Linked DNA regions of Homo sapiens: region 1 is linked to region 2. Evidence: fine-mapped expression QTL. A gene starts in region 2. The other region holds a variant in brackets. All regions are shown on one strand. Distances are between the middles of the regions.

Region 1 (8,334 bases), 140 kb before region 2:
GAGTTTGAGGGCAGCCCAGGTAATGCAGTGACACCCGTCTCAAAAAAAAAAAAATTTTTTTTTAAATTAGCCAGGCATGGTGGCACACACCTGTAGTCCTAGCTACATTCCAGCCCAGGAGACACAGCAAGATCTTATCAAAAAAGATAAAAGCACAGAGATGGAAAACAGGAGAAAAAACATGAGAAAATCAAAATCAGTCCTGGGAGAAACATGTAAATAACAGGAACTCAAGAAAAACAAAACAGCAGCTATAAAGCAAGCTGAGAGTGTCCTGATTGGAACAGGTTAGAGGCCCCCAGAAAGGATGCCTCCAGGGATGATAATGAAATAAAATCATCTTGGGTTTTTCTACGTAAGAAATATGTGAAATGTGTATTAAGAGGCACCCTTATAAAGGGTACAGGGAGACTTAAAAGTTCCAAGAAAATTAAATGAAAATACAAATGAAGGCAGGGCACGGTGGCTCATGTCTGTTATTCCAGCACTTTGGGAGGCCGAGGCGGGTGGATCACTTGAGGTCAGGAGTTTGAAACCAGCCTGGCCAACATGGTGAAACTCCGTCTCTACTAAAAATACTTAAAAAAAAAAAAAAAAAAAAAAATAGCTGGTGGTGGTGGCAAGTGCCTGTAATCCCAGCTACTCGGGAGGCTGAGGCAGGAGAATCACTTGAACTCAGGAGGTGGAGGCTGCAGTGAGCCGAGATCGCGCCACTGCACTCCTGCCTGGGTGACAGAGCGAGCCTCAGTCTCTAAAAGAAAAAAAAGAAAAAGAAAACACGAATGAAATAATTATTAACTTCTGGTAGACAGGAGAAGACCTGTGATTCCTTGTCATTACCACTATTATTATCTTCTCATTCAGTAGGGACCAAAATTAGTGGAATAATTTCTAGCTTTGAAGGGAGAGACATACTCTGTTCTGCATCCATTTGTTGATAACCTTTTAGAGAAAGATGATTCCAGAGAAAGTTCAATTCTTTTTTTTTTTTTTCTTAAATAAAGGTGGGAAATAAGGTCATCTTCAAGTGTGAAGAAACATCTTATCTTACTGGATGACTTCAAGCACACTACCTGGTAAACACATATAGACAATTTCTATTTCTCCTTGTGTATCCAAAGCCCTCCTAATTTCAGTGAACCACATGACCCAGATCCAAAAATGACAACTTACATTCTCTAACAAATTGACTGCTCTACCTCAAATCATATCCACATAAAGCATCTTCAAGACTCTGCTATATTATGTCACCTTTTCAGAGGCCTTCTCAGAACACACTACCTAAATTTGGACAATCCACCACACCATCATTATCCCTGACTCCCAACACTCTCCCTACCCACCTTCCCTTGTTACCTCTCTGACACTTATCAACCTCTCATACGCTTCATTTTCTACTTTTCTCTTCTCAATCAGAGGGTCAGCTTCATGAATGCAGAAAATCTTGCCTGTTTTAGACTCAGCTATATCCCCAGACCTTAAGTGAGTAGGTACTCAGTAAACATGTGTTGAATGAATGAATGAATGAATGAATGAATGAGCACCGAATGGCATACTGAACCAAACTATGAAAATTATTCATTTTCTCCTCTCTGTCAAAAGCTGTGTTATTCCCCTTCCCTTTTATACTCTTTTGTATCCTTCCTACCCTAATGATGAACTACAGGATATACACTTAAAAGCAGAGGTACTTTATTTCTGTCACATTTTTCTAGACTAGTCAGGGAACCCAGTGTCTTTAGAGAAAAACATATTCTGCTTTCTAGACATCAGACTTATAAAAGATTATCTGCACACAACTCACCCACAATTTTGAACAACCCGTGTAGTTTTATTTATGAGGTCTTCTCAAGAACTACAGTAAAATGTTTAAGAAAACTGAACAGTTATGTTACTCAATCTTCATGTTATACCTATGAGATCCTTCACATTTGCTAGGGTAACCAAATTATGGGCTGAAGTTTAATAATGAACGTCCAATTCAGACACACAACAATTCTGACAGTAATTGTCCTCAGTAACCACTAACCCATAATGCATGCTAGATATTCTGGAACATCGCTTGACTAGATCCCTTTTACTTTAAAATTTTACCTCTTCTCGAAGCTGCCGTTCTCGTTCTTCCTCTAGTTTTTGGATTTCAGCCAACGACAGCGTGGCCTGGGACTGACATGCTGTTGTATTGGACTGCTGGCCCCACGTTGAAGAAGAAGGAAGCTAACAAAAAAGGGAAGGCCAGAAAGTTCATGAGGAAATGTGGACAGGAAACAAAGAAGCAATAATGCATTATGTATACCCAGAACAAATGCATTTCTCTCAACTCCATTTACCACATTCAATTCAAATTTCCTTCTTCATTGCTTTTACTTACTATCCTCTCAGCTTCTTTTGCTTAAGTTTTTGTCACTGCTCCAAACCTAAGTTTATTTTAAAACAACTTATAATACACATACACACTTACATTTCATCTACCTCTTGGTGACAACAAATTTGTTACATCTGGTACTGACATAAACAGCAATATACAACCATAAAGAGGAGTAAACAAAAGAATCACTAAATTGGCTTAAGGATTTTTTAATTGACGAAAGCAACAAAGGACATGATATGCTGCTGTCCAGTGAAAGTGTTAAGGACACGATTTCTGAGGGTAGCACCATGAGATTTCTCATCTCATGAGAGATGCTGGCATAGTTCTTGATCAGCCTTTATGAAAGGGAGCCACTGTTAACCAGGCTGTAGCTTCTAGTCATGAGCATTAAGCTGCTTTTAATCAATAATTTTATTTTTCCCATCCCTTAAGATTATTGACTAAAATAGAGTATAAATATCTAGGTCCTGAATATTTCAATATTCTCAAAGCCTGATTATTCTCAGAGAACCCCTTGCTCTTCCTGGCCAGAAAAAGACACACTTTTAATACTGAGGCATCAAACAAGCGAACACAATAAAAAAGAAACCTAACCAGACTTAAAAAATGTATTTAATAAAAATAATACATGAACATAGATCAAAACAAATAAAATGCCAAACAGTCCCCAAAAGAATGGACCTACAGCAGAAATCTATAACAGTGGATATTGATAGGATAAAAGGTATAAACAGTTTAAACCATCACTGATACTGCCAAACAACTCTTCAAATGAATGTCTTCAACACTACTGAACATAATCAACTCTTAACATTTTTTAGCCAATATGACAGACAATAGGGCATTTCTCTCAAAATGCACCTGCCCTGGGGTGGGGGAGGGGTGCAGAGGGAAGTTAACAAAGACTGGGGGAGGGAGGTGTTGAGAGGCAAAACTGAGCAAAAATTAACTTTGTCTCCACAGGAAATGACTCATTTGAAGGCACTATCAAGATCAAGTAAGGCAGTAGATCTCAAACTGGCAGCATAACCTGAAGGGACCTATAAAAATGTAGAGGCCCTGGCTCCACCACACCTAATCAATCAGAAGATCAGAAGGGAAGGCAGGAGAATCAGCATATTTTAATCATTCTGATGCAGCCAGTAACCACTGATGTTGTCTAAAATCACAGTAGATGTGTCACCCCATGGTAATCAGGAAACAATCTTTCAAGCCCGCTTCAGCAGAACTCAGCCAGCACTGGGAATAGAGGCAGTGCCTCCAGAAATGGCCATCTATCCTCACGGGCACCTCTGAGAATCTTCCTATTGCTGTGCCAAAATATATTTATTTTCTCTCTCCTCCCTGGCCTGACTCCCTATTTCTCTCTATATACACACACATACATATGCGTGTATATATATATATA[C/T]ACATGCACACACACATACACACATATACATATACATACACACGCTCTTTCTCTAGGTATATATACACACAAAATATATACTCTATATTTCATAGGTCTGTTCTACAGACCAAAGTTAAGTCTTCCTTATATAGACTTATGTCTGCTGATAGCTTTCATTTTCCTTAAGTCTTCTTTGTACATCGGAAATAATATCCCAGAGCTCTTTCAACATTGCCTCATGACACTTACCAGCCCACCCTATAATGCCCACTCAGGAGAACTGCAGTGTGTCAATCATGCTTCTCAGAACAAACTTTTGACAAATCAAAAGCAAATAGGGACCCCCGAATGCCTAATGTCCTTCATTGATTTTTAAAACTATACTCTTCTTGTTCTGCGCTGACATTGCTACCTTACATTTCAACACTGGTTTTGCTTTAAGAAATAACTGTTTCACTGTCGGAATGACAGCATGAGGAGCTGCGTGGACCTGCTCCCTGGCAAAACTGGTGAAGATCATTTTTAAAATAATCATTTAAACTCTCTGGCTGGCAGCAGGGCCCCACACCTGTAATCCCAGCACTTTGGGAGGCCGAGGCAGGCGGATCACTTGAGGTCAGGAGTTTGACATCAGCCTGGCCAACATGGCAAAATCCCATTTCTACTAAAAATAAAAAAAAAAAGTAGCTGGGTGTGGTGACGCACACCTTTAATCCAGCTACTTAGGAGGCTGAGGCCAGGAGGATCGCTTGAACTCAGGAGGCGGAGGTTGCAGTGAGCTGAGATCGTGTCACTGCACTCCAGCCTGGGCGACAGAGCCAGACCCTGTCTCAAAAAAATAAATAAAGTCTCTGGAAATACTCCTAAGGGCATACAGCAAATGAAAAAAAGTTTATTCAAGAATATTTGCTAAAACTCAGTAAGAACAGCAAGAGTTGGTGATACTTAAACCAAGACCTACTCTCCTTCTCTCCTCCCAGCTTAATGAGACAGAAACTCCACTCTAGACTGGTACAGTCAAGACACGGCTTCCCTTCTCCCCTCAGCCATCAGTCAGCAGGCTTTCTTCCTGGGAAAAGCACATCGGTGTGTCTCACCCTGATGGCAGTCACCTGTGACAAATGCTAAGTTCCAAACAAGTGCAACAGATGTGGAGGCTCTCTTCTTGTGCCCAGCCCCACTCATAGGATGGAAACTTGACCACAGCAACACCAACACTAGGGTCGTGATCACCAATGCAGCTGGCCGGGCCAAGCCATCAGGAGAGGCAAGCCAAGAATACCTGAGGCTACTATTCTGCCCACCCTTCAGCAAATGTTAGAGGAAAGCAGACCACTGTGCCCACTTCCAGAGCTGACTGAGAGATTTTTGTCTGAGGGTAGTGGTGTAGGAAACAGGTAGAAAACAGAAAGCTCCAGGTTTCTTCCCAAAGGAACTGACTTTATTTGCAACAGACAGTGGATGAGTTCAAGCCTAATGGTGTTTTCAGAAACAGTAGAAGTTGGGATAAAAGGCAATTAGGAGGAGACTGGTAGATTCATAGGAGATACAGGCTAAACTGTAGGAGGCTGCTACCTTATCTGAGAAAACTAGTTAAAGAAAACTAGAAGAAATCCTCCCGGAGTCAAAACAAATTTCATATATAGACCTCAGGAGCTATTTCTTCAAAGAAACCTGAATTTAAGTGGATCAGTCTGTCAGTGTATGCCCCAAGGGATTTTTTTTTTTTTTTTTTTTTTGAGACAGGGTCTCACTCCGTCACCCAGGCTGGAGTGCAGTGGTATGATTTTGGCCCACTATAACCTCTGTCTCCCAGGCTCAAGTGATCTTCCCACCTCAGCCTCCTGAGTAGCTAGGACCACAGGCACACATCACCACGCCTGAATAATTTATTTATATATATATTTATATTTATATATATTTATATTTATATATATTTATATTTATATATATAAATATATAAGTATATATATGTATATATATATATATATATATATATATATATATATATATATATATATATATATATATATATATATATGTAGAGATGGGGTTTCACCATGTTGCCCAGGCTGGTACTGAATTCCTGAGCTCCAGCGAACCACCAGCCTCGGCCTCCCAAAGTGCTGGGATTATAGGCGTGAGCCACTGCACCCAGCCCAGGACAATTTTAACCCATTTCCCATCTGCCCCGAGAATATTTGCTGGCAGCATGTGCAGCTGCAGCGTTTACCCAGGGCTAACTCGCAGGTTTTTTTTCCTAGATCATTTGGCATCTGTTTTCTGTTCCAACAAGCTGTCCTAACTGCATCAGTGCTGTTTGGATATAATTCTCTGAAAAGCATTTAGGGGTAAGGTTAGGACTGTAATCCGAGAGTTATCTCGGGGTCAGCGCTGCAGCCACACGCACCACCAGGGATATTCTCAGGGCAAACGGGAAATGGGTTAAGAACAACAGAGCAATCAGCTAGCAATAAGTGGAGTGAAACAGCTGGGTGTGGAAAAGACAATCAAAGAGAGCCCTGCCAAACCCACGGTCACCTCGGAGTCACTCTGGGCACACCCAGTGCTATATCCCCAACATGGGCAAGAGCAAGGGCTTCAACATGGTCGGGGGGAGGAGGGGAGAACTGGATTCCACTAAAATAATCCATCCAGTCACAAAACAAATAAACAAACAAGTAAGAAAATCAAGCTGGGAAGGGCGGGTGGAGATACCCAGAGTTGCTAGAAGACATTATCAAAAAGTCCAGCTGCCAATAAAAAATTACGATACATGCAAGAAACAGGAAAGTATAACCCATACACTGGGGAAAAAAGCAGGCAACAAAAACTGCCTGTGAGAGTGAACAAGATGTCAGATTTCACAAAGACTTCGCATATGTTATAAAAGTTGTTCAGGGAACCTAAGGAAGCTATAACTAAAGTAGTAAAGGAAGGTATGATGACAGTGTCACACCAAATAAAGAATATTGATAAAGAGATAGATGATATTTTTTAAAAAACCAAAAGGAAATTCTGGAGTACCAAAGTATAATAACTGAAATTAAAAACTGCCCATCAACAGAGGATTGGATAAAGAAAATGTGGTGTTTATATAAGGCATGGAATGCTACTCAGCCACAAAAAAGAATGAAATCTTGTCTTTCACAGCAACACAGATGGAACTGGAGGCTATTGTCCTAAGTAAGGTAACCCAGAAACAGAAAGTCAAATACTGCATGTTCTCACTTATAAGTGGGGGCTAAACAAACAGGCACACAAAGTGGAATAATGGACACTGGAGACCCCCAAAGCTGGGAGAATACGAGGTGAGTAAGGGTTGAACAATCACCTACTGGGTACAATGCTCACTATTTAGGAGATAAGTACACGAAAAGCCTGGACTTCACCACTGTGCAATATATGCTATTAAGAAAACTACACTTGCATGCCCTAAATATATATAAAAAACTTTTAGTTAAAAAAAAAATCACTAGAGGTACACTATAGTGTATCTGAACTGGCAAAAGAAAGAAACTTAAAGATAGATCAATACAGATTACACAAAGAATAGAGAGAAGAACATGAAAACTGAAGAGAGCCTTAGAGAAATGAGACACCATTAAGTGCATGAAGTGCATCAACATAAGCATCACTCAAGTGCCTGAAGGAGAGAGAGAAAGGAACAGAACATACAATTGAAGAAATAATGGCTAAAAACTTCTCCAGTTTATGGAAAAACATTAATCTATACATCCAGGAAGCACCATGAATTCTGAGTAGATTAAACACAAGGAGATCCACAAACAGACACGTCATAGTAAAAATGCTGAAAGCCAGACTCAGTTTGGAAGTTACCTTTTTTCAAGAAGCCTCTCCAAACTTCCCAGATGGACAGTGGTTCTCACATTTTAGAGAGCATGGGTTTGTTTAAATACAAGATTTCTCAGTTCCACCCTTAGAGGTTCTGATTCAATAGGTCTGGGGTGCGAATCTGCACATCTCACAAGTTCCCAAGTGACGGAACTCTGAGAATGACTGACTCCATGCCACCTCTCCCACTATACTCACCATACTGTATTCTACTTGCCTGTTTATGTGTCTAACCTGTGAGCTACTTGAAGATAGGGGACACTAAACCTTACTGCGCACTGCAGACCCAGCATGAAGTTATGCAGAACCTGCCATAAGTCTGCTCCTCCCTTCCCAATTACTCCAATTCCATCAACAGTTCCACTATCTTCTCAGTCACTGAAACTTATCTGGCAGGCACCCCAGCTTCTGCCTTCCTCCCTCAGCTCCAGAGACTAATTAATTCTTGCTGACTGCTATCAGGCCAGCTCCCTCCTGCTGGCCTCTCCTATTCATTCACACCAGCACCAACACAGCCTCTTTACTAGGCTCCCAGTATTTACTTTCTCCTTATTAAAAAAAAAAAAAAAGTTTTGAATCCTCTTTAAAACAACACTTTGTATATATCACCTCTTAATGTAACTTTCAATAAATGCCTATGGCCAACTCTGTTTCAAGCCCTATATTCTAGTTCCCATTTACACATCTGAACGTTTACATGCCTATATTTTTAAGTTGG
Region 2 (8,334 bases):
CGTGCACCACCATACTCAGCTAATTTTTTAAAAATCTTTTTTAGAGATGGGGGTCTCTCTCTGTTGCCCCGGCTGGTCTCATGGCTCAAGTGATCCTCCTACCTCAGCCTCCCAAAGTGCCGGGATTATAGGTGTAAACTACTGCACCCAGCCAAAGAAGAGTTTATTATCCATTTCTTCTTCCCTTTCCTCCTGCCCTTAAAAAATTACACAGTTCAGTGGGTAAAGTTGGATGACCTTTGGACATTATAACATGGCTACTTTTTTTGCAAAATTAAATCAGAAGTGGATGTGACTTTCTCAAATTGCATTCTTGGTGGGGCACAGTGGCTCATGCCTATAATCTCAACACTTTGGGAAGCTGAAGCGGGAGTATCACTTGAGACCAGAGGTTTAAGACCAGCCTAGGCAACATAGTGAGACCCCATCTCTACAAAAAATATTGGCCAGATGTGGTGGCATGGACCTATAATCCCAGTTACTTAGGAGGCTGAGGTGGGAGGATGGCTTGAGCCTGGGAGATTGAGGTTACAGTCAGTGGTGATTGCACCGCTGCCCTCCAGCCTAGGTGACAGAGCAAGACCCTGTCTTTTTTGGAGAAAGTCTTGCTCTATCACCTAGGCTGGAGCGCAGCGGTGCAATCACGGCTCACTGCAACCCCAAACCCCCAGGAGACAGGGTCTTGCTCTATCACAGGCTGTAGTGAGCCAAGATCAGGCCGCTGCACTGTAGCCTGAGCAACACAGTGAGATTCCATCTCAAATAATAATAATAATTAAGCTTAATGAAACCCCATAGTTAACAAGAAAATATAAAATTGTGTTCCTTATTTACTTAAAGTAGGGAAGTATGTAATACTTTGAAATACCTTTATAAAATGAAGTTTGGTCAATTAAGAGAACATTCTTTGTTTTTCAAACCTCTTTCTGCTTTCAACCTCACACAAAACTATAGGCAATTCAATAAAGGTATCACTTTACATTCCTACATAATTAATTTAGTATATTTCTCATTCATCTGAGAGCATGAATAAAATGTAAAAACAATATTTGGTCAAGAAACACTGCAATGCTAACTATAAGCAAGTTTATACATGAAATAAAAATCTCTAGTTTTAAAGAGATGTAATTTTTCAAAGTATTAAAAATGAATGGAAACTCTAGGACTTTTTTATCTTATTTTAAACTTCTATTTCTTTTTCATTTTATATATTTTTCCTTTTATTCTTAAATACTCTCCCATGCAAAAACCATAGGACTTTATCACCACAAAACCCTAGTGGGAATCAAGCAGTGAAAAAAAGCTTGAGTTCAGACTGTTACAACAATGACCAAACAATATGCCATGGTAATTTAAACTGAAGGAAAATGGACATTTAACTTGCCTCTAAGAGACCTGGGTTAACACCAACATAGGCTGTAGATTCAACCTAATGAGACTGGTCCCACTATAATCTATAAGAAATAGAATAAAACAGAAAGTATGGGAAATTTAATCAGCAGGAGCTAATGGAGAACTGCAAACAAAGTCAAAATTTGAAAATGGCACAAGTCAAAGATCCTACAGAAGGGCAATCATAAAAGCGACAGTAGTAATCTTTTTACCCAAAAAGGTTCTCCCAGATAGCAATCACTATCAACAGTGTCATCTTCCAATGTGAAGGTCAACAAAAAGAGAAGAGACAATATGGAGTATTAAAATGCAGAGTCATGAAAACAAATGAGCTGATATGACATCAAAGACATAATTTGGAAATGTCATTTCAAAAACACAATAGAAAAACAAGAGGAAGAAAGGCAATTAGTTAAAACACTACCTCATCACTACCATCACTATGCCTCCCTTTTAGCCAAGGAGTTGCATTCACACACTGACCTTGTAATTTCCATCTTCTCATGATTTTGAGGCAAACCTACTCCAAAGTGTTTTTCACATATGCATCTCACCAGCAAAAGCATTTCAAAACCAAAATATTAAAATTCCTCAGCTGAACTAAAATGAAAGAGGACATTTATGAAAGCTCAGTAAAAAGAATATGGAGATAAACTGGAAGGAAATCAGAAAATGTTTTTTGCAAAAAAATATGTCTATTAAGTATCAGACTAGACAACTAGTCTGAAAGGTAAAAGTGGAGGAATAAAAAACTCAGCACAAAAAGTTCTACACGTGTAAAATGTGAAGGATATACACATGAATTAGAGGAAGAGTCTCCGGGCTGGACAGCACAGTATTAAGAAAAATTCTTTACTAACCAGATTAAGGATAATTTGAGTTAATACATTGTTTCCACCTTTCTTCCTGGTATGTTCCTTAATCATGTGTCTAAATGTGAAAGGAAAATTTCTAATTTCCCTACATTTTCAAATATCCTGAAATCTCCAAAGAGCCTCCTTCTTGTAAAGCAATTGCTTTTGAAAAGTACTTTCAAGCAGTTTATCATCAATCTCATTTTAAAACGTTTACTTTTGAGAAAGATAATTCATTATAATTTCCTGAAATACTGAGCATCCTAAATTTTTCCAAATTAGCGGATGGGGATGGGAGTTAAGGGGGTTGGGGAGGCTGGCTGCTGGCCCAAATTTCCAGAATCTGATTTCCCTTTCCAAGAATCACAAGAGATAAGAAAAAAGAATTCAGGATAGCAAATAATCCATCTCATCTTAGTACCAAACAGTAAGTACACACATCTCCCACCAGTCTCCCACTCACCCTAGCCTCTCAGCCTAGGCTAGCCTCCATGCTTTTCCCAGTCTACTCCTGAATCGCTCCTAAGCTTTTGTCTCCGGGTCTTTGCTCTTGCTGCTCCCTAGCCTAGAGCACTTTTACCCCAGTATAGCTAAAGAAACAGCACCTTCACCTCTGTTGGGTTTTTCCTCCAGTGTTAGCTTCTCCATGAGGCCTTCTCAGGGCACTTAAAATTAACCCCTCCCCAAACCCCTATTATTCTATCTCCCTGACTCATTTTTTTCTTTCACATCGCTTACCACTACATCAAGTATTTTACCTATTTATCTGTCTAGAAATGAATTCCATACAGACAGGAATTGTTTGGTCTGTTTTGCTCCCAGTACTTAACAGTGTAGTAAGTGCTCAACAGGGTATCTGTCAAATAAATGAATGTATGAATGAATAAACAAATGAATGGAAGCACATGGTTCCTTCTCCCTCCCAAACCTCAAGAGTCTCAAATGCTGTCAGGTACCAAAAAGTCATGAAGCCCTCTCCTTTCTGGTGAAGCACTACCATCACCAGTGTATTCCTTGATGTTAAATTTCGAAAGAAACATCATGTGACATTTTTCCAGTTACGTGCCACTTTTAAATACTTTTCTAGTGTCCTCTTCTGTTGTCAACATCTGATGTAAAAGCCAAGTACATATTCCAGTTTGAGCACATCAGAAACTGCTACACCAACTAGTAAAACACGTAAAACCATCAATGAATAAGAGAAAGTATTTGTGTTCTAGGCAAAATGGACAAAATAAGGCCAAAGCTACAAATATTAGAAGGAGCAAAATTAATGTACAGAAAGAATGACAGAATTTTTTTTTCTAATCTAGGAAGTCATTTGATTCTAAAAAGGACATACTATATAAAGAAAGAATACCTTCCCCAGGCACAACATTGGGAATCAAAACTGCCTTAATTCAATGTATGTAGCTCTAGAAAGGAAGCTGTTCACAGCTTCTAGCCCCATACTCAATTTCTTGCAAGTTAAACTGGAATACTTACCTTTCTTACAGAGAGACTACGTGTGTTTAAGTGCTTTGACTTGCAGGAAAACGAAAACAACAAAATAAAAAACACAGTACTAAATAATTAACTGCAAAACAACGTTATTGCTTCCCAAACACGGTCATACGCTCCGCTTCTTTCATGCCCCCATTCCCTGTTCGCTTGATTTATGTTTCAGTCGCAAAACAAGTATTCAGAGTGCTTTTGGAAACTGACACTTAAGGATAATGCCCATTTCAACCTGATGTGAACATTTGGGTCCCCAAGGCTGCCATGGGCTCTAGTTTCCCAGCCTCGGTCCCAAGGTTCCGATCATGGTGGCTGCACCTCGCCTCAGGCCTGGTCCAGACCCAGTACTCTCGCCACGGAAGGAGTCTCCTCCGTCCAGATGCTCTGTGGGGAAGGCAGGAGCGCACCTCCCAGGGACCAGGTGTGGACAGGAGAGCCGGCAGGAGCAGCTGTCTGGCCGCAGCAGCTGTTACCGGGCCACCCCGAGACTGGGCGGGTGTCTGGCGCGGAGAAGCAAGCAGAGGAAGGCGAGCCCTCCAGCTCCGAGCAAGCCGGCCTGACACTGCCCACCCCACAACCCTCCTGCCTTGTTCGGCTCCCCTCGCAATGCCAAGAGGCCCTGGCCTAGGGGCTTCTCGGCTCCTCGCGGCCGTGACGCGCCAGGGCCCTCAGCGCCCCTCGCCCAGGAGGAGGCTCCCTCCGGCCCTGCACCTGACCTGTCCCGTCGCCTGACGGCCCAAGCCGGCCGGAGCGGCCTGTGGGTGTCCATGCGGCCGGGCCAGCTCGGGCAGGAGGAGCAGGGGCGCGAACGCGGACCGGAGACACAGGCGGCCCGGGACGCGGCGGCGGGGCCGGGGCGCGGAGCAGAGCCGGGCAGGGGAGCGACACGGAACGGCTGGTTACCTGCGGTCCGGGACAGGGAGTCTCAGAACCCCAGTCAGTCCTCAGCCTCAACAACACAAGATGGCCGACACGTCGCCACGCACGTCACGTGACCGCGCTCCCGCTCCGCCACGCCCCCTGCTCCGCCCCCGCCCCTTCCCGCTTCCCTCCCCACTCTCCAGTCTCCCACGACATCCTTCCTTTCCGCCACCACCCGCCCCTCTGCCCAGACACGCCCCTGCCCGAGACCCGGATGAAAGGTTGGAAGAGGGCGGGGCCGTGGCAGTGCGCAGGCTCCCGCTGACCCCTTGGCAGCAGCCGGGTACCTGCCCTTGAGTTGAGTGGTGTTGGTGTCCAGGGTTGGGCCCGGACCAGGCACCGTGTGACTCACTGTCCTGTACGCCCAGAGCTCTTTTGCAGTTCAAAAGCCTCTGCATCACTTGCGGGCTGGTTTTCCAAATTAGAACTTTTCCACAGCTTTTAGTCCGGCATTTTTCTTCGCAGTTGCCATCCTAGAGCGAATGGGAAAGCCGCAAAAGCTGAAATTCAAAGCAGTTTCTCTACTTGTTAACAGTTCTGGTAGAACTGGGAATTCATTTCAGAGTGTTGTACTGGGACAGCTGGAAAGGACTTGAGAGCTCTGATTCCTTCCTAGGACATCTGGGGCTATAACCCTTTTACCTAGAGATGAACTATTTTGGAATTGACAGATAAAATACAAGACACCCAGCAATATTTGGGGCACACACTGAAAAATTGTTCGTTGTTTTTCTGAAATTCAAATTTAATTGGGCGTCCTGTGTTTGCTAAATCTAGCAACTCTATCCTTAGGCATCCCATTCTTGCCTGTGTCTCCAACTTCTTCCTTCCTACAGGATCCTTCCTGTCAGCTTTAAAGATTACTTGTGTCTCCCATCTTAAAATGGAATGTTAAAAACTCCAATTCTCATGCCGGGCGCAGTGGCTCACACCTGTAATCTCAGCACTTTGGGAGGCGGAGGTGGGCGGATCACGAGGTCAGGAGATCGAGACCAGACCATCCTGGCTAACACGGTGAAATCCCGTCTCTACTAAAAATACAAAAAAAAATGTAGCCGGGCGTGGTGGCACGCACCTGCAGTCGCAGCTAGTCGGGAGGCTGAGGCAGGAGAATCGCTTGAACTGGGGAGGCAGACGTTGCAGTGAGCCGATATCGCGCCACTGCACTCCAGCCTGGCGACAGAGCAAGACTCCGTCTAAAACAAAAACAAAAACCTCCAATTCTCGGCCGGGCAGTGGCTCACGCCTGTAATCCCAGCACTTTGGGAGGCCGAGGCGGCGGATCACCTGAGGTTGGGAGTTTGAGACCAGCCTGACCAACATGGAGAAACCCCGTCTCTACTAAAAATACAAAATTAGCCGAGCGTGGTGGCGCATGCCTGTAATCCCAGCTACTTGGGTAGCTGAGGCAGGAGAATCGCTTGAACCCGGGATGCTGAGATTGCGGTGAGCCAAGATCGCGCCACTGCACGCCAGCCTGGGCAACAAGAGTGAAAATCCGTCTCGAAAAAAACAAATAAACAAACAAACAATCAAAAACACCAATTCTCCCTCCTGCGACCCTGTTCCCTTTCAAAGCCAAGCTGCACCAAAGAATTGTTTATATGCACTTTCTCCATTTCCACACCTGGCATGCAATCATCAACCACACCGATGTGGCTTCTGTCCTTTCCTATCTGCCTATTGCTTGCCCTAAGAACACCCCATCCTACAGGTTGATAACTGGAGTCTTTCAGTCCTCATCTTGACTTCGTGTTTCCCTGTCTTCAATATGATTGGCCTCTTCCTACTTTCTGAAACACTTTATTTATTTATTTATTTATTTTTGAGACAGTTTCGCTCTTGTTGCCCAGGCTGGAGTGCAATGGCGTGATCTCCGCTCACCGCAACCTCCGCCTCCCAGGTTCAAGCGATTCTCCTGCCTCACCCTCCCAAGTAACTGAGATTACAGGCATATGCCACCACGCCCGGCTAATTTTGTATTTTTAGTAGAGACGGGGTTTCTCCATATTGATCAGGCTGGTCTTGAACTCCCGACCTCAGGTGATCCGCCCACCTCGGCCTCCCAAAGTGCTGGGATTACAGACATGAGCCACCGCTCCCGGCCTTCTGAAACACTTTCTTCCCTTGACTTTTATACCCTTACCGCTCAAAGTGGTACAGTAGCATCAACATCACGTGGAGACTTGTTAGAAATACAGAAACTCAAAGGAGCCCTTCACAGTCCCATTCTGCAGAATTCTACCCCCATAGCTTGGGAAAACATAGAGAGATCCCATTTCTAAAAAAAAATAAATACATAATAATTAGCCAGGCGTGGTGGCGTGCACCTGCAGTCCTAGCTACTTGGGAGGCTGAGGATCACCAGCCCAGGAATACAAAGCTACAATGAGCTATGATCATGCCACTGCACTCCAGCCTGGGCAAAAGAGCAAGACCCTGTATCTAAAACAAACAATCAAAAAGAACTCTACCCATCATCCATGTTGTTCTCTTCTCCTTGATCTTCCCCCTGAACTAAGTGCTCCAGATAGGCCCATGTTAAAAGATTCGTAAACATGACATTATGTTTTAGCCTTTGCACATGCTGTTCCATCCTGCTGCAATGCCGTTCCCAACACTTACCCACTTCTCCCCAACCTGCAACTCCTGCCAGTCCATGTGTTACTGCCTCTGTGCCTCCATTAGACCAAAGAATTTACCCCTTGAGCTGTTATTTTTAAGGAAAAAAGTAATACTAATACTTGTTATGTACTGACCACCCCATTAAAAACTTTCCTTGCACTGTCTCATGTGATCCTAGTAAGAGCGCTATGGAGCAATCCAACCAGGCTTCTGAGAGAAGTGCTTACCATATCCAAATCTCAACCAGGATTTCCAAGCCCAGGCTGGCAAATTGTAGAACCCATGTCCCTAACCAACTTGTCATGCCACCTCTCTGATGCCATGCCACCTGTACATTGCCTATACATATATTTTTTAAATTAAGATATAATTTGCACACAATAAAATTTAGCACTTTTAGTGCACAGTTCTGCAACTTGAGACAAATATATACAAGTGGCCAGGCACGATGGCTCACGCCTGTAATACCAGCACTTTGGGAGGCTGAGGCAGTCAGATCACCTGAGTTCAGGAGTTCAAGACCAGCCTGGCCAACATGGTGAAACCCCATCTCTACTAAAAATACAAAAAAAAGTAGCTGAGCATGATAATGTAGAACTGTAGTTCCAGCTACTTGGGAGGCTGAGGTGGGAGGATCACTCGAGCCTGGGAAGCAGAGGTTACAGTGAACTGAGATTGTGTGCCACTGCACTCCAGCCTGGGTGATAGAGTGAGACCCTGTCTCAAAAAAAAAAAAAAAAAAAAAAGCTGGAGAAAATCCCAGCTTTTAACCATTGTGAGTGCTGCATTATTCCATCCAGCAACCTCTGCAGCTGGTATTGCCCTGACACACAGTAAATGCTCAACAAACACCAATAAAACCCAATCGATTCTTGATTATCTACTCTTCAGGAAGGGTGCTTTCCTTTTCTCCTTTTAGTAACTCTGTCTTTCCAGTGTTTCACTAAATAGTGGTATTAAATTACAACGTAGACTGATGCATGCTTTTGTCAGGGATAATAAAGTTTTAGCCGTAGTACACCACTGATAGAAACAGAAGTTGAGA

What was found.
Region 1: its variant is fine-mapped to the expression of GIGYF2 in whole blood (TOPMed, PIP above 0.99).

The regions. Positions count from the first base shown.
Region 1 is chr2:232,833,732-232,842,065 of GRCh38, reverse strand. GIGYF2 (GRB10 interacting GYF protein 2) reads right to left here. Exons shown (of 29, transcript NM_001103146.3): 23 at 2,095-2,217. Among named protein-coding and RNA genes, the nearest start is that of SNORC, 32 kb to the left of the region's middle. The variant C/T (reference allele first, on the strand shown) is at 3,780.
Region 2 is chr2:232,693,705-232,702,038 of GRCh38, reverse strand. GIGYF2 (GRB10 interacting GYF protein 2) reads right to left here and starts at 4,708. Exons shown (of 29, transcript NM_001103146.3): 1 at 4,647-4,708. RefSeq lists enhancers at 3,510-4,204, 4,205-4,901 and silencers at 4,406-4,735, 4,766-4,855.